Regions from separate parts of the Homo sapiens genome. Here region 1 is linked to region 2. The links come from fine-mapping of genetic effects on gene expression. A gene starts in region 2. The other region holds a variant in brackets. All regions are shown on one strand. Distances are from middle to middle. Region 1 overlaps THBS4 (thrombospondin 4). Region 2 holds the start of THBS4 (thrombospondin 4).

The links. PIP is the estimated chance that this variant, and not a neighbour inherited with it, causes the effect.
Region 1: its variant is fine-mapped to the expression of THBS4 in blood mononuclear cells (TOPMed, PIP above 0.99). The same link has a PIP of 0.9 or more in monocytes and whole blood.

Annotation. Positions count from the first base shown.
Region 1 is chr5:80,065,530-80,075,114 of GRCh38, forward strand. It overlaps THBS4 (thrombospondin 4), which reads left to right. Exons shown (of 22, transcript NM_003248.6): 10 at 2,444-2,596; 11 at 4,777-4,881; 12 at 5,114-5,221; 13 at 5,492-5,651; 14 at 6,749-6,867; 15 at 7,746-7,798. THBS4-AS1 (THBS4 antisense RNA 1) reads right to left here. Exons shown (of 8, transcript NR_109930.1): 4 at 6,979-7,136; 5 at 6,557-6,694; 6 at 6,203-6,362; 7 at 2,985-3,245; 8 at 820-2,352. Among named protein-coding and RNA genes, the nearest start is that of THBS4-AS1, 13 kb to the right of the region's middle. RefSeq lists an enhancer at 4,660-5,859. The variant T/C (reference allele first, on the strand shown) is at 4,728.
Region 2 is chr5:80,030,451-80,040,035 of GRCh38, forward strand. It overlaps THBS4 (thrombospondin 4), which reads left to right and starts at 4,898. Exons shown (of 22, transcript NM_003248.6): 1 at 4,898-5,175. The coding sequence starts at 5,088. It also overlaps the pseudogene TRMT112P2.

The sequences.
Region 1 (9,585 bases), 35 kb after region 2:
AGTGTATGTTTATAGATCATAGCTTCCAAACACACCTAGAACATGTGGGCATAATATATTTGATTGGCAGAATAAAGGCAAAAGTTTGTGCTGAAAAAGTGTTTAATATGAGTAATTTTAAAAGTAATTTTTATGTAAGAATAATTTTATAAGTGCCAAGTTCTTTATTTTCTATCAAAGTTGCAATATTAGGCTATTAGATAACTATTTATTGAGTAAATAATTATTACTCCTGTATTTTAAAATTGTGAAGAGCTTGGTAGTTTATATTAATAGTTCAGTATTTTACTGGTGACTACACAATCCCCAAATGGCATTATTTATTTTCATAAAACTTTCAATCATGGGGTCAGGAGATCGAGACCATCCTGGCTAACATGGTTAAACCCCGTCTCTACTAAAAATAGAAAACAAAATTAGCCGGGCCTGGTGGCGGGTGCCTGTAGTCCCAGCTACTCTGGAGGCTGAAGCAGGAGAATGACATGAACCCGGCAGGCGGAGCTTGCAGTGAGCCGAGATCGCACCACTGCACTCCAGCCTGGGCGACAGAGCAAGACTCCCTCTCAAAAAAAAAAAAAAAAAAAAACTTTTCAAAACTTTTCATTGTATTAAATTAAAGTGCTTAGCACTTAGGGATGCCTATAACTTAAGTATTCAGATATGGGTTTTATTTCTGAAAGTTCCTGTCAAACTGTGTCCAAGATGAGAGATGTACCAGAGTTGACTATCAAGAAAAGAACTACTGATTACGTGTATGACTATTTGAAAGTTATCCAGCCTCTAGGTTCCTTGTTTCCTTGTAAGTAAAAACACTTTACATTTATCAAGTCACTTATTTTAATCCTCACAACAACCTCATAAACAGGGATTATTATTATCCCCATTTTACAATTGAAGAAACTGAGGGACAGAAATATTACATCATTAAGTCCAGGCATGGTGGAGCATGCCTATAGTCCCAGCTCCTCAGGAGGCTGAGGCCGAAGGATCATTTGGGTACAAGAGTAGTTTGAGGCTACAGTGAGCTGTGATCGCCACTGCACTCTAACCTGGGTGACAGAGGGAGACCCTGTCTCCAAAAAGAAAAAAAAGAAATGTTACGTATTTAGACTAAGGTCACACATCTTCCAGGTTGGCTACAGAGCCTGAGTTCTTCTCCGCAATGCTATATTGCTTAGGAATAGATGGGGATTTATTGCTTCTCAGCTTTTACCAGGACAAAGTAGTCTGCAAATAGATTTGCGAGATCTTGGTGTAAAGGTAATAACTGAGCCACCTAGAGAGAAGGAAAGTAGACAGTAAATAGAACTCCAGGAAACCCCAAAAACGAAGGACTAGGCCAAGGAAAAAGAGCAGAAGCCAGAAAAAGGAGCGAACTGATAGCACAGCCAGGGAGGCTGAAAGATCGAGACAAGTCATTGGAAAGCATGCATTGGATTTGGCAACTAAGAGGTTGTGAGTGACTTAAATCATTAAACAATATATATACTTCAAATGGATGTCTTTTACGACCTGTAAATGTTATGCCAATAAAACTGCATAAGATGAAAAAGATCTAATGTACAGCATGGTGACTGTAGTTAATAATACTATATTATATATATGAAATCTGCTAAGAGAGCAGATCTTAAGTGTTCTCACTGAAAAAGAAAAAAAGGAAGGTAACTATGTCAGTTGATGGATGTGTTACTTAACTGACTGTGGTAATCATTTCACAATGTATACGTATATCACATCATCACACTGCACACTTTAAATATATTCAGTTTTGTCAATTATACCTCAATAAAGATGAAAATTTTAATTTTCATTTTTTAAACATATTGTATAATATTTATTACATATATAGTGTGCAGTGTGATAATATATATTATATATATAAAAGCTAAAAAAACCTGGCCCCTGAAGTGTCATTGCAGCGGAGCTGACAGCTCATTTGTCAGTTTCTCAGCCTACCTCATCAGAAATTCTCAATGCAGGCCACCAGCATTTCTCTGTGCACCCATTCCTTTGTCATTCCATTGTAAAAGAGCCAAAGGAACAGCAATAAGAAAAATTAACTTGCTTTTTAAGCAGATCATCTCCCTGTCCCCAGAGTAAACTTCTCACACCACCTCCCAGGACTTCACTGGAACTTTTGACCTGTCCCCTATGCCCTCCACGGTGGCGCGGGCAACTCAGTGTCATTGGTTCACAGTCCAGCCTTCTTCCTTCACTTCTATTCCTTCTTTGTCTGAGTGGCCGGACGCAGCCTCCAGTCTGATGGTGTTTTCATCAACATTCACATGATCTTACATGTAAGCAAAGAAGAAGGCATGGATCTGATGCCTGATTCCTGCCAGCAATGAGTACCTGTGAAAATATACACAATAACTGTACCTTTGCTCAAACTGTACCTTTGCCCACAGCTTTCAGCTCATCACCTGATCTTTGTTCCTTGCAGGGATCTTACCGCTGTGGGCCTTGTAAGCCGGGGTATACTGGTGATCAGATAAGGGGATGCAAAGCGGAAAGAAACTGCAGAAACCCAGAGCTGAACCCTTGCAGTGTGAATGCCCAGTGCATTGAAGAGAGGCAGGGGGATGTGACATGTGTGGTAAGTTGTTTTTTGACTTCCTCTATCATTTTTCCTCTTCCATTTTTAACACCACCTCTCTCCAGTTTCTATGTGCTTCAGGGTAAAAGTACTCCAAAATGAAAGCATTGCAATTAAATGAGCATGGAGTGTAATAGGAACAGGGTCCACCGAGTTTGTGGGGAGCAGCCTGACATCCATCTAACCATCAGCTGCCTTTTCTCTCCCTCTTGGCTGGGGGGCAACCCTGTCCACTTGGGTACCTGGATGCCAGAGCCTCCGGTGAAGCCCCAGCTCCCAAGCACCTTCTATGGAAAGGCCCAGAAGCCAGCAGCAGGGAGGTGAAGGAACATTCTTCTCCCCTTTCCTTCTTCTGCCCCATCTACCTGCCTGTATAATGACAACATACCTGCTGTCATCTCTAACTGTCCTCATCCTTACAACTTCCAGAGTCTGTCTGCCTTGACGCTCCTGTTGGGGGTGGGCCATCGTGTAGAGGTGGGGACTGTCATAGTCCCTCCGGGAGAAACCTTCCGTCTTTGGCAGGTGACTGGCAGGGCCAGACGGCGCCATGCTGTATGTCTACCTCCACTCCAATCAGGGACAGCTCCATGAATGGTCACGCTTCCTGTGCATTCTCCAGCCACGGAGCTGGTCTGGGGAGGGGAGGCTGGGAAGAGAGTAGAGCAGTCACAGCAGGGCCTGACATGGGTCCCATGCTGAGCTTGTAGTGGGCCCTATGTGAAGGAGAGGGCATGCTCCTGCCATCCATTCCCAAATCCAAGGATCCAGAGTCCTCAGCCTGCCATCCATTCCCAAATCCAAGGATCCAGAGTCCTCAGCCTGCCATCCATTCCCAAGTCCAAGGATCCAGAGTCCTCAGCCTGCCATCCATTCCCAAATCCAAGGATCCAAAGTCCTGGGGATCCTAGGCACTGAAAAATCAGCAGACTTCAGCTGCCCCCCTCCTCTGCACTTCCTGGGATGCCAGGCCCTCGGCCGGTGGCCCGTCAGACTCTGGGGTCACTGGTTCACAGTGATCACCCCTGAGTAGCAAGATGGATTCTCGGAGCCCTTTTCCATCTTTATCTCAAAGTTATGCTTCTTTATCTTTATGCATACACAATTTTCCACAATGAGCCTACCACTTTTCAAATAGGAAAAATAAGAGTCAAAAATGAGTTAATAAATAAATATAATGAAGTCAGCCCTCCTTGGCAATACAGATATTCTGTAACAAGGTCAGATGGAAGAATGTGGTGTATCAGAGGGGGAATAACCCCAGCAATTTCCTGAATTCCTCATGGTTGGGCTTGTTTATTACCAAAAAGCAGTCATTGAGAAACAAGTGTATATCTCTGTTGAAATCCCCATTTTCTGTGAACAAATTGACAACTCCCCTGGGATGATGGGTGATGGGGCTCTTAATATGTTTTTGAATTTGTAATAAGGCACAACGACAGATGGTAAAGGATTAATAAACTTGGCGTGACTACTAAAATAATTGAATCTGCCAGAAAATAGCTCATTAAAAATGTATTTGTTCCTAGAGGACATTTTTTCCTCATTAAAGTGAGTCAAGGATCAGCCTCGTGGATCAGCCTTCCAGGCCTTCCAAAGGCCCTGCTGGGGCAAGTGAGCAGGAACCAGGAGCCCGGGAGGGTCTCTCTGGAGTTCTGCCTCCTAAATCCTGGTTGCAGAGGGAGAGCACAGATGATTGAGAATAAGCAGGCTGTGGCTGAGGAAGTCACTGGTCTGAAAGCTTTTGGGTGGTGAGGCCAGGAAATTTAACCTGTGCTCACATAAGTCTGATTTCCCTTGGCCCAGACTCTGCTCCTCAGACTCTCTCCCTCTTCCTTCCTTTACCTCCCGTCCCAGGTCAGCTTTCTCTCCCTCTGCGTTTCCAGTTCCCTGTGACCTTCTGGGTCCCCTCCTCCCATCTCCCTTCTGCTGCTCTGCCTGTTCCTGGAAGTGGGAGTGGGAGGGAGAGTTTTCTCTCTGAGTCTCCCTTTATATCTTTGAATAGTGAACCATTACACTATTCAAGTGCAATTAAATAGTTTCTAAGCCCCACCCAACAAGGCTGAGTGACTCTGGGCCCTCCCCCTGGGATTGAGCAAAGGAGCAGAGAGGCCCTTGTCAGCCACCAGCT[T/C]CCTGCCAGGCTCAGCTTCCCAGGCCTCTGATGGGCTTTCCCTTTACAGTGTGGAGTCGGTTGGGCTGGAGATGGCTATATCTGTGGAAAGGATGTGGACATCGACAGTTACCCCGACGAAGAACTGCCATGCTCTGCCAGGAACTGTAAAAAGGTAAGGGGTGTGGGGTGGCAGTAGGCACACATGCACTGTGGCTTTCCAAAGTCACATCTTCTATGGGGAGAGGTTCTGTGGATCTAATTTAAAATTGTACTTGTAAAGTAGCTGCATCTCAGAGGAAGTGAAACAGCCACCAACAATAAAGCCACAGTGTCTTGAGGTCAGAAACAGTTACTGGCTTAACACAAATGTAGGATGTCACTCGGAACTGCATTTTCCCCCTAAGGACAACTGCAAATATGTGCCAAATTCTGGCCAAGAAGATGCAGACAGAGATGGCATTGGCGACGCTTGTGACGAGGATGCTGACGGAGATGGGATCCTGAATGAGCAGGTACCTGCTTCGCTGGGAGGGCCTGTGAATTGCCACGTACCAGGGATGATGGGAGAAAGCCTGTGATGTCAACTATGTATATGAATCATCCCAAATGTTAGTTTCCATGCCTGCATTCCACAGCACTGCAGCTTTTTACCCTATAAGATTCACAGATGTTTGAAATATAAAACTGACAAACTTGGGCCACCAGAGTGCTGATGCTTCACAACAATGGAGGAAGTGGATTTAGTAAAAGTCTGAGTGATGTTCTGTCCTTTCATCTTTTAGGATAACTGTGTCCTGATTCATAATGTGGACCAAAGGAACAGCGATAAAGATATCTTTGGGGATGCCTGTGATAACTGCCTGAGTGTCTTAAATAACGACCAGAAAGACACCGATGGGGATGGAAGAGGAGATGCCTGTGATGATGACATGGATGGAGATGGTAGATTTATCTTGCTTTTGTCTTTTATTTGGAATTCAGTTGACCTTGTTCCATTGTTCTCTGAGAGAGTAGGAATAGAATGACTGATTCGGAGCCTTCCAGCTGTGGGTGGCTCATTGTGGCCTGCATCTGGAAGACCCAAGGTGGACTTGTGTCTATGGAAGGAGACCCCACAGCCCACTCCACTACCTAATGGCTCTGGATGTTTCCAGGACTCTGTATCATTGCCAGAAACTTTGTATGACCCCTTCAAGCAGTGTCTTGTCAGAGTGTGTCTTTATGGGGTATCTCCCTTCCCATTTCTACCTGTCCTCACTCTCCACTATCCTTTCTACATGTGAGAGACCCAGAAGTGGAGAACTGAATGAGAAGGCATTGAGCAGGGTCACAGACTATGCATCACAGGCTACACATCCCATTGTGGGCCCTTGAAGGAAAAACCTTTTTGAAATACCACCTGCCCCAACACACACATACACACACACACACACACACACACACACACATACACCACTCCAGAACATGCACACCCCCCTAAAACATGACCTCACCTTCTGCAAGCCTAACTGATGACCCATTTCCAGTGGTATATGCTGGTAAGCAAATCACAGAAAGCCCTAGTTGGTAGCATTTTCCAGTTTCCATGATGTAACTCCGCATTGTCCTCATTGCTGATTTCAAGCTACCAATGTGACATCATCAAACACAAAACTGAAAAGAGAGGGACACAATGGACCCAGCTCCAGCACAACACTGCCTAGAGCCCTAGGGTCTCAGTCATAGCTCAGATACCCACGAGATCCTCCCTCTCCAGGGTCAGCCATACAGCCATCATGATCCCCTCCTCGTGGTTGCTATCATAGCCCTTGACATCTTGGACAAATTAGAATTCAGTCGATAAATACCTCTGAGAGCTGTTCATTTTTAAGTCTCCCAGAATCCGTCCTTTGAAGCTACCTCTGGATAACTGCAGAAAAGGGTAGTCTCTGTGTGACACTGGCCCAGGCAGAAGTGACTCACCATGCGCCTGATCTCTCCAGCACCTAGAAGAAGTCAGTGACATTCCCCTGACTCAAGGTAGCATTTCTTTCTCACAGGAATAAAAAACATTCTGGACAACTGCCCAAAATTTCCCAATCGTGACCAACGGGACAAGGATGGTGATGGTGTGGGGGATGCCTGTGACAGTTGTCCTGATGTCAGCAACCCTAACCAGGTTAGTAGGATACTGGGGAATTCAAACTCCAGGCTGAATTCCTCTATGCAAAGACTCATTTAAGACGGGTGTCTAGAAAAACAGCAGAGCCTCTTAGCTGTTGCCACTTACCTAACAAAGCAGAGGTGGAAAAATGACACACTGTGGGCCTGAAGATGGTGGGATGAACACCACACAAGATCTGAAGCCCTAGGGACTATCTCCCAGGCTGTCGATTGCCTGTGAGGTTAGTAACACGAACTTCATGATGCTCAATACAAGTATTTTTCCTGCAGAAAGGAAAACGGAGCATGGAAATTAACCATTGGGAGCCTTGTGTCCCTTTAGTCCCTAAACCCCTACACAGCCTATGTATGGACATTTCAGATTAAGTTCAGCCAGGGATGTGTTGCATCTCCCTTCTCACTCCTCCTCCCTGTCTGGATAATTGGGTATGATGTGTCATTTATTTTTAAAGCCCTGAGAGAGGGGAGTCATGGTTGCCCTCTGTGACTCACTCATGATTTTGGCCAAATTGCAAATTGCAGAAGCAAAGCAAAATCAACCTGCCTTCTCCCCATGCCTATGGCTGGCTCCCTGTGACCCGTGCCAGAGTTCCATGCCTCCACCTGCCACCATGCTACCCCAGCGCCCCTTTCCAATCAGCTCATCTGGTGTGTGGGCAGCCCATCCATGTAGCTTGATATTTTAGAAGGCTTTTTTGAAAATTCAGCATTGTGCCTACACCAATATGGTGTTGTCCTTTTGCAGTTTTGCACCACCCCGGTTCCAGAGAAATAATTCCCCAAATCCAATGATGATGGGTGAGGTCTGCCTTCTCTGGAACATTCGGTACATGCAGGCCCAGGAATAAATAACATGTGCTGTTCTCTTTGCAGTCTGATGTGGATAATGATCTGGTTGGGGACTCCTGTGACACCAATCAGGACAGGTATGGCATGTCTCCCAACTGCAGAGAGACAGATGCAAACATCCGGAGAGGGTTTTTGGTTTGTTTTTTTTTTTGAGGCGGAGTCTCACTCTATCACCCAGGCTGGAGTACAGTGGTGCAATCTCGGCTCACTGCAAGCTCCGATTCCCAGGTTTATGCCATTCTTCTGCCTCAGCCTCCCAAGTAGCTGGGACTACAGGCGCCCGCTACCATGCCTGGCTAATTTTTTTGTATTTTCAGTAGAGACGGGGTTTCACCATGTTAGCCAGGATGGTCTCGATCTCCTGACCTTGTGATCTGCCCGCCTCGGCCTCCCAAAGTGCTGGGATTACAGGCGTGAGCCACTGTGCCCAGCCCGGAGAGGGTTTTAAATTTCAGAACTTCCTGCTGCTCCATTCCTTGGGATCTTTCTGGGTGGACTGAGCTGCTGGTGGGATAATAGCCCTGCCTCTGGTCAGAATTACCATGAAAATTCTCCCTGAAAGTTCTGTATAGGGTATAACGGTGTCAGAATAGGTTACTAGGCACTCCAGCAAGTGAGATCTATTTCAGGAGAGGTAATATAGCATCATGCTTCACAGATGGGCTCTGGAATAAGACAGCTAGATATAAATTTCAGCTCCTTCTCTTACATGCCAGCTAACCTTAGGCAAATTACCTAATACTTTTGCCTCAATTTTCTCATCTGTAAAATGAGGATGACAATAGATCTAGCTCATAGGACCATCGTGAAGATTGAGTTGATCCATGGAAAGTGCTCATTATGGTTTCTGTTATATACATAGCACTCAATAGACATTAGCTCTTTTATTTTTATATTCTTTCAGCTCAGGAAAACTTCACCATCATCCCAAAATAGAAGGCTGTCAGTTTGCTGAGGGATTGCTATTATTTCCTGGTCCTTGAAATTTTTTTAATTCAGTTTTCCTTATTTAAGTGGAATTGTTCTGTGGAAGTGAGTTTTGTGAACCCTCCTAGCTCAACACGATGGAGTCCCACATTAAGACTCAAGGCTGGATCAACTGATCAGATTCTGGAAGAACATCACCAAAAACAGACGTGTGTCACTCAGCCCTAGCGGCACCTGCAACCCAAGGTTCTAAACCCTTTTGTCTCCATAGGGAATTCTTACAAAGGCAGCCAGGACAAGGATGAGAGGGAAAGGATTCTAAAAGAGAAAGCAAAAAAAGATGCAATTTCTCTCCTGATACCTGGATCAGAGGTTGCCCTGCAGAAAACCAGTTCCTGACCCAAACCTTACTCAAGGACAGCTCCTATGAAGCCACAGCTCTCTCTCTCTTTTTTTTTTTTTTTGAGATGGAGTCTTGCTCTGTCACCCAGGCTGGCGTGATCTCGGCTCACTGCAACCTCCACCTCCTGGGTTCAAGCAATTCTCATGCCTCAGACTCCCACGTACCTGGGATTACAGGTGTGTGCCACCATGCTGGCTAATTTTTGTATTTTTAGTAGAGACAGAGTTTCACCATGTTGGCCAGGCTGGTCTCGAACTCCTGGCCTCAAGTGATCCACCTGCCTCATCCTCCCAAAGTGTGCATCTCTTTCATTATGCTCTGTGTCCTTGCTGCAAAGTACATATAGTCATCCCTCAGTGTCCCAGGGTATTGGTCCCAGGATACCCCTCTGCCCCCAGGATACCAAAATCCTCAAATACTCAAGTCCCTTATATAAAATGATGTAATATCTGCATATAACCTATACCTGTCCTCCTATATGCTTTAAAAATCCTCTCTAGATTACTTAATACCTAATACAATGTAAATGCTAGG
Region 2 (9,585 bases):
TCCACCTCCCGGGTTCAAGCGATTCTCCTGCCTCAGCCTCCTGAGTAGCTAGGATTACAGGTGCCCACCACCATGCCTGGCTAATTGTTTGTATTTTTAGTAGAGACGGGGTTTCACCATGTTGGCCAGGCTGGTCTCGAACTCCTGACCTTGTGATCCACCGGCCTCGGCCTCCCAAAGTGCTGAGATTATAGGTGTGAGCTACTGCGCCTGGCCTGATTTTTTAATTTTTATTTTTATAGAGATGAGGTCTCACTATGTTGCCCAGGTTGGTCTCCAGCTCCTGGCTCAAGTGATTCTCCCACCTTGGCATCCTAAGTGCTGAGATTATAGGCATGAGCCTCCATGCCTGGCCCCTTTATCCATCTTTTAATGTTAATAATTATATCCATTTCTGTTTCCTTCAAAAATTCAAGTGGAAAACCTGACATAAATAATGGTAACTTTTTTATTATACCTATATCAATTAACACATATGTATAAAACTTCTACTTAGTTGTGCCAAATATCAGTGCACAGTATGGGTGATTTCCCCCACTTGCGAAGAATGGTGCTATAGTCACCGCACAGGAGCAGGATAGATCCCCACTCTCAAAATTGGGTTTGGATATCAAAATCAATAATGCCATCACACATGCAGCAAAGGGGTTTGAAAGGTTTATTGCTCACATAATACGTTTTTTTGGGGGAGAGTAAGATGGGCTTCCAAGCTGGTCTGAAAACTAGAGAGAACAAGAAAGGAGAATGGCTTTGGGATTCTTATTGTGGTTAGGAGTGGGGCTGTGGTGAGGGTTCCTGTACATGGGCTAGGGCTTACTGTTGGAACTTTGTGCTAGTGCCAAGGAAGGAGCACCTAGGCATTCTTATCAGTTTGCTCAGATGTGGGGCAGAGAGGAAGGGAAGTGGTGGGGCTTGAGAACTGTCTGCAGTCAAACATCAAAAATTAAGTCATACTCTGTATTACAACAATTAGAAAAGAAATAAAATGTAGTATATCAGTTCTCTATTGCTACAATATTGTTACATAACAAACAACCCCCAAACCTCAATGGTATACAAAAATAAATGTGTCCTGCTCACACATCTGGAGTCAACTAAACAGCTCTGCTGATCTTGCCTGAACTCATTCATCTGTCAGCTTGATCTTGGCTGGCTTTGCCAGGGGTGGGCTATACCCTGCTCTATGTCTCTCATCCTCCAGTAGGCCAGCACAGGCATGCTATCATGGCAAAGGCAAAGGTGCAGGAGTAAACCAGCCCAATAACACAAGCACTTTTTAAGCCTCTGCTTGTGGCACTTTTGCCAAAATCCTGTTGGCCAAGCATGTTACGTGGCCAAGCCATGAGATGTGTACACAGAAAAATAAAAGATGTGTACACAGAAGAGCAAAGAATTGGGGCCATTTTTGTAACCTACTGCACCTATTAATGGATTACTAATATGTCACAACTCTTATCCTAGATTACAGTATTAAGAGAAGGAAAGTCAATTCAATGATATATTTACTACTAAATGTTAGGTACTGTACTTGGAATTAGAGTTACAAAACTAAATGAGATAATCCTAAGGAGCTCACAGTTGGATACTGGAAAAAAAATCAAACAAATTAATACATTATTAAAATAAATGAAATAAAATCCAATGTAAGTACATGAATAGATATTTTAATAAGAAGTGGCATGGAAATGAAAATAAACTCTTTTGTCTCCTTTATCATATATTTCATAGCTAATTAAATTAATTTTATTATAATCAAATTTACTGTAGACCTGAGGACATAAAGTTTACTGAGACTCCCTAGCGAATGGCTGCATAAAAATGCAAGCCCTCTAAAAGCAAAACCAGATTGTAAATTCTGTTAGGCTAACAGAAAGTCATTTGATTCTTTTGTTTTTCCGTTACACTTAGTAGTCAACCAAAATTTATTGTGTGCCTATATGTGTGTATTAGTCAGAGTTCTCTAGAGGGACAGAACTAACAGGATAGATAGGAAGGGGAGTTTATTAAGGAGTATTGACGCACGATCACAAGATGAAGTCCCACAATAGGCCGTCTGCAAGCTGAGGAGCAAGGAAGCCAGACTGAGTCCCAACACCTCAAGTAGGGAAGCTGACAGTGCAACCTTTAGTCTGTGGCTGAAGGCCCAACAGCCCCTGGCAAATCACTAATGTAGGTCCAAGAGTCCAAAAGCTGAAGAACTTGGAGTCTAATGTTTGCGGGCAGGAAGCATCCAGCACAGAAAAAGATCAAGGCCAGAAGACGCAGCAAGTCTGCTCTTCCGTCTTCTCCTGCCTGCTTTATTCTAGCCATGCTGGCAGCTGATTAGATGGTGCCTACCCAGATTGAGGGTGGGTCCGCCTTTCCCAGTCCACTGACTCAGGTGTTAATCTCCTTTGGCAGCACCCTCACAGACACACACAGGAGCCATACTTTACATCCTTCAATCCAGTCAAGTTGACACTCAACATTAACCATCATGATGTGCAAGCTATTTTGCTGGGAATTTGCTAGGATCGAAAATTCCTAGTTTTTTTGTTGTTTGTTTGTTTTGGTTTTGAATCTTTAATGAGAAAAAATACTATTGTGCTCAAGAACACCGTGCGTCTGGTGTGTCATTGGGTCAAGGGTTGGGGACACACATGGCAGAATTCAGAAACAGGGTAACATCAACAAAAATACACACGGTCATAAAAAGAAAAACTGGCACCTGGCATGATCAACTCTGTTTCCTCATCATTCAGCAGCATGTTGGGGATCCTGCGGCTGATGGGGAACACACGTCCAGACTCTGGGCACTGCAGGGTGCCCTCCAACACATCTACCTCCAGCAGCACGTGGTGCATTGTCCTCACCATGGAGATTCCTAGCAAATACTCTAGGTATTTTAAATAGAAGAAATTTAATACAGGGAAATGATTACATATATAGTAGAAGAACTGAGATGTCAAACAGAAGAGTGAGGCAATCCACATTTTAGCAACTGCAGTAAGTGACCTCCAATGTCATGGCTGGAGGGTGCAAATGGTGAGAAGGCAGAAGCTAGAATCATGGTGGACCCCACCTGCAAGAGTCACAAAGAAGATGCATCCATTCAGGTCACAGAGAAGTAAATACTCTAGTGTCTACCTTCTACCTTCTTATTGCTCTCTAGTCTCCCATTTTATCTAGACTGCTGACAAGCATGCAGTGGAAGGTGAGCACCAGATCTGAGAGGAAACAGGCAGTGTCTGGTGGCACACTACACAAGAACTCTCACAGGCATCCACTAGGCTTGCTTGGTGACTCATTTAAGGAGTAACCCTATTTTATGTATCAGAGTAGTCTATGGTGTGATATAGCATATTGCTGCTTTTGATGTTTGGTTTCATTTGTTCCCTGTAGGCACCTAATCACTGTTTTTTAAATTCCCCAGGAGATTCTGGTATACCCAATCAGCTGAGAACCACTGAATAGTGGCTTTCAAAATTTTGAGCATCCAAATATTGTCTTCACAGAAAATCTTAATCTCTGAAGTCTACTGTAAAAACATAGAAAGGCAAGGCTGTTCTGCTTGAAGCGTAGCTTGGGAGCCTAGATTCCTCTCAAACCCAGGCCACTCCTGGGAACATGGTCTGGAGATTTGAATGTTCCCAAATCTAGTTTATCTCATTAGTCGATATTTATGCACATCCTCTGTGTCTCTCAGTGTTCTCTCATGTGTAGACATATGCCCCATTCCAAAGAGTGACTGTAGTGTAATGTGGCATTAAAGGAACCCTGGATAGACCTGTATTGGACCTTACATATTAGAGAGCTCTGCAGATAGCTCACAAATCTCCAAGTCGCTAGCTGTAAATTGAGTGATAATTGGTGTCAGGTTATTTTAGCACAGTTTGGGGATAAAATGGTGCATTAATCTCCCAGTTTGTGGCTTATTAAACTTTGAAATGGAATTATTTGAGACATAAAAGAGATAGCAATACTTTGCTGGATGTTCTCCATTAGTCGAGATTGTTACAGAGGAGAAATTTTTGCCACTGTTTATCAAATATTTTTTCCTCTAGTTAATCCATATCATTCCGGGAGCTTTGCCCAGGAAAAGGACGAATTACTTGCGTTCCTCCGATCTCTTTCAAGTTCTACTCCCGTACCTTTAAACTGTCACACGGAATCTTTGGTGACAGAGGAATAGAGGTGGGCAAGCAGGGCGTTTGGAAACCATACTGAAAACGAATTATCCATAAAGCACAGATTCACCAGCCTAGAAATGGCTCTGTCTGGATGGATTCCTTGAGATGTGTTTTATCTCCATTAAAAACACAACAACTTTCAAACTTTCACTGTGTCTCAAAATGATAGAGAAAAAAATTCAGCCTTTCAAGTATTCAAGAAAAGCTTGAAGAAATAAAAGAAACTCGCTGCTCTCTGGGCCACTTTAGGAGGCAGAGCGTTCCTGGAGAACTTCAGGATTCATTCGCAAGGGAACCCAAGGTGGGCATTCAAAGCCGATCCAAAGGATATTCTTCTTTTTAGAAAACAAAAGGAGCGCAAGGAGTAGGGGACTGAAGGTGCCCAAAGCTAGTGGGTCAGTGTCACTTTCTTCCTCCCTTTCGCCCCTTTCCTCCCGCTCCTTTCTCCCCTGTGGTCTCTGCTCAGCACCCCTTTCTCTCCAGCCCCGACTGCCCATCTTCGCCCCTACCCTCGCGCGTCGGGGCCGTGTCTACACCCACCCCAGGACCTGGTCCGTCCAGGCTCCTTCCCATCCTCACACCCGCGCCTTTCTCCCTGCGGCCCCGGCTCGCTGCTCCAGCTGCCCAGCTCTTCCCAGGACAGGGGATCCCGCCAAGGGGGCCGCCCCCGCCCCGGCCCTCCCCCGCCCGGCCGCACCATAAAGCGCCCGGCCGCTGCCGCGGAGCCCAGCAGCCAGCTCCCCAGCACCGCACGGCGGGGACGCGAGCGCGCCCCCGACGGCAGCCCGGACGCCGAGCACGGGTCACCTGCGGCGCCGGCCCGGGCGCCGACCGAGGTTCAACGCACGGCCCGGGGACCCCCAGGCGGGGCCAACGCCGCCGTCGCCCCCGGCCTCGCGGGGAGCAGGAAGAGCCAACATGCTGGCCCCGCGCGGAGCCGCCGTCCTCCTGCTGCACCTGGTCCTGCAGCGGTGGCTAGCGGCAGGCGCCCAGGCCACCCCCCAGGGTAAGTGGGTTCGGGTCGGGCCTGGGAGCGCCGGGCACCGGGTGCCCCATCTGCTGAGTGAGTGGAGGGACTTGCTCGGCCCTGTGCTCCTGTGGCCTTGCTCAGCCCCTCTCTGTCCCTCCCGGGCCCAATCAAAGCATATTGTGATTGGAGGTAGTGATTAGTCTAGAATTTTCCGAAATTCGATTATCCAATGATGAGAACAATTGCCTAAATAGTTGGGGGATGCAAAATTGTTTCAGACTATGCAAAGATGTGGGGTGGGGTTGCCTTCAAAACTTGCTACACGGTCCTAGACCTCTTAACATGTTAGGCTCTGGTGTAGGGTGAATTCCGGGTCCTGCACCCTGTGCCGGTTCCCTCCAGGCAGCCTTGCTCCCTAAATCCTTCCTCAGGCGGAGCGATGTATGCCCAGAGTCTGCTCTTGACATCCCTGAGAAAGACGCAGAATTACTCTACTTGCCCTGCCACCTGCATTTTCTGCTCTGACTTTGCTTGAACGACAAAAAGAAAGTTTATTTCAAGGATTGGCTTGATGTCTTAATTTCTGAGGTAAATAGGAAGGGCTGAGAAACTGGTCTTTTTCAATGAAATCAGTTCTTTGCAGCAAGATGGATGCAGCTGGAGGCCATTTTCCTAAGTGGATTAAGGCAGGAACAGAAAAGCAAATACCATGTTCTCACAAGCGGGAGCTAAGCAGTGGATAGATATGGACATAAAGATGGAAACAGTAGACACTGGGGACTCCAAAAGTAGGGGGGAAGGTTGGGAAAACTACCAATTGGGTACTACGTTCACTGGGTGATGTGTTCACTAGAAGCTCAAATCCCACCTTATGCAATGCACCCATGTAACAAACTTGCACATGTACCCTCTGAATCTATAATTTAAAAAGAAAAAAGAAAGAAATTGATCTTTTTCTATGAAACGGTAAAAATTCAACAAATAATGTGAAAAGATACTTGGACAATCCTCAAACCCCTTGGTGAAATGGGGTGAAATAGCCATTGGGTAGAAAGCAGTTAAACAGAATTTTTTGTAAAGACCAAAAGGAAGACATGATTTAAGCAAAGAAAGATCTTAGGGCTATAACTGGCCCTAACTGGTCAGGCGTGAGCTTCATCTGTTTGAACTTGGTGCCTGGGTTGATTTATTACTGACTGTGGAAGTAAAACTGGAAGAGACGCACAACTTGAAGTAAAAGTTGTTTTTCCTCTTGTAGCCAGAGCAAAGACTGCCTATGAGGGCGTTCTCAACTTCCCTGCCTCTCGCTGCTGGAATCACCCATTTAAACTGCATTTCGCCAAATAACTCATTTTCATTCCAGACCAGACAACCAGAACTGTGGTTTCAGGGGTTAGAGTACTGCTAACTTTTAGTTTGTGTTGAAGTATTTGAAATGCTGTAGTCCGTGCCCCATACTTCTAGGAAGGTAAAAAAGGAAGCTTTTAAACACTTCAAAAGTCTTATTGTGATGATATTTGGCAAGTTCAAATTTATAGGTATAATTTTTTTGTGTTATATACGTTCTTGACTTTTGAACATACAGCTTTATGGTGTGCCTTAGGTATGTCTCAGACATACCTGACCATTTTATGGAGATTTGAACTCGGCCTATACAACCTAAATTATCTGGGTAATTTAGTTGCTGTAGATGATCTGATTAAGTTAAGTTTCTGATAGATTCTTTTATTGCATTATCTAGTCTGCAATTATCAGGCTTAACAGGATAATTTGATTATCTCCTTCTTCCCCTGAGCTTCATTGTTGGTCTTAAATTAGTATATATTCAATTTACATACCATGGTAGCTGCGCTCATTGGTAGCAGTAATTTCACCTCTAACAGTAGAGGGTTGTGCTTTGATCCTGGCACTTAAACGTAATAACATTAATAGAAAATGGTAGTGTCTCATTTCCTTTTCAAAACACTCTCTATGTTCATTACTAACTAATCCCATCTCTGCCGCTTGAGAGAGATGCAAATGAATCAGACGAACCATAGATTGAAATACCGCAAGTTTAGCTTGAGTTACATCATGAACCTGATCATAGTCAAAGGAAGAATCAAGAGTACTAAGAATTTTGTTTTGAATGTAGTTCCCATACTTTAAATACATATCTCTTTTCTGAAGATGTTTTGTCCTGAATGGAACTTTAAAACATATTGCCTTATTTCCCTTTGCCCTCATTAGTGGAAATGTAAAGTTTCCAATTCTCTTGAAAATTAAAAAATCCAATTTCCCTTTTGAAATGCAGTAGGCAACAGTGTTTATGGTTTAGGGATATAGGCACTAAGAGGAGCACAGTAAATGTTCTGCTTTCCAACACATCTCATGTTAATTTCATTATTGTGTAAGGACCCCTGGTACATGTGAAAAATACAGTATAGATCCAGTTTGAAGACAAATTGTCTTTTAAAAGGGGTAAATATTCTTGAGTAACTAGGTTTTTGCCTGTTTGCTTTAGAACTTTTATTCATTCTTATTACAAAAGCAATACCTGCCCATTGTAGAAAAGATTAAAGTTAGATAAGCAAAAAATAAAATAAAAAGAAAAGAGGAAATTTAAAACTTATATTTATGCAACCCGGGGATAGCTTCTATTAACATTAACATGTTGTTGTATTGTCTTTCATTTCAAATATTTTTCTATGCAAAAATATATTTCAAATGGAATTACGTTATACATATAGTTTTAGAATCCTTTTTTCTTAATGTATCATGAACATCTTTTCACATCTGTAAGTATTCAGCTACATTTTAAAAATAGGTAGTATTCTGCTTTTTGGAAGAATCAAAATGTATTTAGCCAGGGTTGTAATATAGAACCCTTAAGTTGTTTTCGGTTTTGATATTGTAAATATTAATTTATTGAACAAGTGCAGGTGTCACAGGATGGTTTGGGATGAGTTTAACCATCCCCTCAATCTCAGCCAAGCCCTTCTCTTTTTTTTTGCTAAGGACAGTTAATGTTTTCATAGCAAAATGCTATGCCAACAGAGCTCAGGTTTACCTCTCTTCCAATTAGATTTTCACCTAATTCTTTCCTAAATAGAAATTCTAGAATTACCACTAGTGTCTAATATTCTTGTACCTAAATCATTTACCATGTTATCCATTATTTCCCTAGGATAAATTCCCATAAGCAGAATTGCTAGATCAAGGAGCACATATGTTTTAGGGCCTTTGATACTGTTGTTTAAACTGTCTTCAAAATGTTTATACTAGTTTAAATGTTACACAGTGGTACAGAGAGTGCCCATTTCCCTGAACCCTCACAAACAGTTGAGTACTGTTGTATTTACTAATTTTCCAATTCGATGGTGAAAACAATACGTTATTGTTTAAGTTAGCAACTCCTGCATCATTAGGTAAATACATGAACATTTATTTATATACTTAATGGTCATTGTAATTCTTTTTATGTAAATTGCCTTTTCATATTCCTTGCCCATTTTTCTATTAAGATGCTTATCATTTTATTGATTTGTAAGAACTCTTTATCAATTGTCAATATTACCCATTTAATAACCAGATTATTATATCCAAGAGACAGCTGTAGGTGCTGAAGTTTCTGCAGCCTATGGAATTGTTCAAATGATATTTGCGTCTGCTAATAGATATACTAAATAACTTCCACTGAGTATTACCCAAATTTGGCCTTTGCCTTTTAAATGACTCTGGGCATACTCTCTCATAGCTTTCATAAATATTACAAAGTTTGTGAGAGAAAGTACTGCTTGCTTGATCAAAAGCAACTTATACAAATACAAATGCAGATTCTGATTTTTGTAGAGCAATTCTATCAGTCAAGAGACAGAAACCACATCATTTTGTTTTGTTTTGTTTCCACATTGGGATTTTTTTAAACAGAGAAATGTTGGAGAATTGTAAAGGCACAAAGGGAACACTTAGGTCTCACAAAGGTGGCAAATCACTTTCTACCAGCACATCTACCACCATAGCCATGTTTTCTGCTGCATTTCCTGTCATTTGTCACTGACCAGGAAAACACAATTGGCTCTGGTCCTGGAGGTGCCTATGGGACTCCGTGACAGAAATTCACTGCTTGGGGACATCAGTAAAGCAATGGCTTGGATGCTTTCACCAGTCCCCCTTGTACTTTAAGCCTTTAGTGCTTTTCCTGGTGGGCATTTTCAGAGCTACTTGTTCAGCCAAACCCAATTATGTGTTTGCAAATTCAGTCCTCTCTCTTGAGGGCTACACCCAGTGATGAATATTGTGCTGTATTTCTTCTGGCTCAAATGTCCAGCCACTATAAAAGTGACAGGGAAGAACTGGTGAGTTTGGCAATACGGAAAAGGGATTACAAGATTAGTTTACATTACTTTGTAGCTTACTGTCAAATTGCACCCCCCCCAAACAAAGAAACCCTGTTTTCCCCAAAAT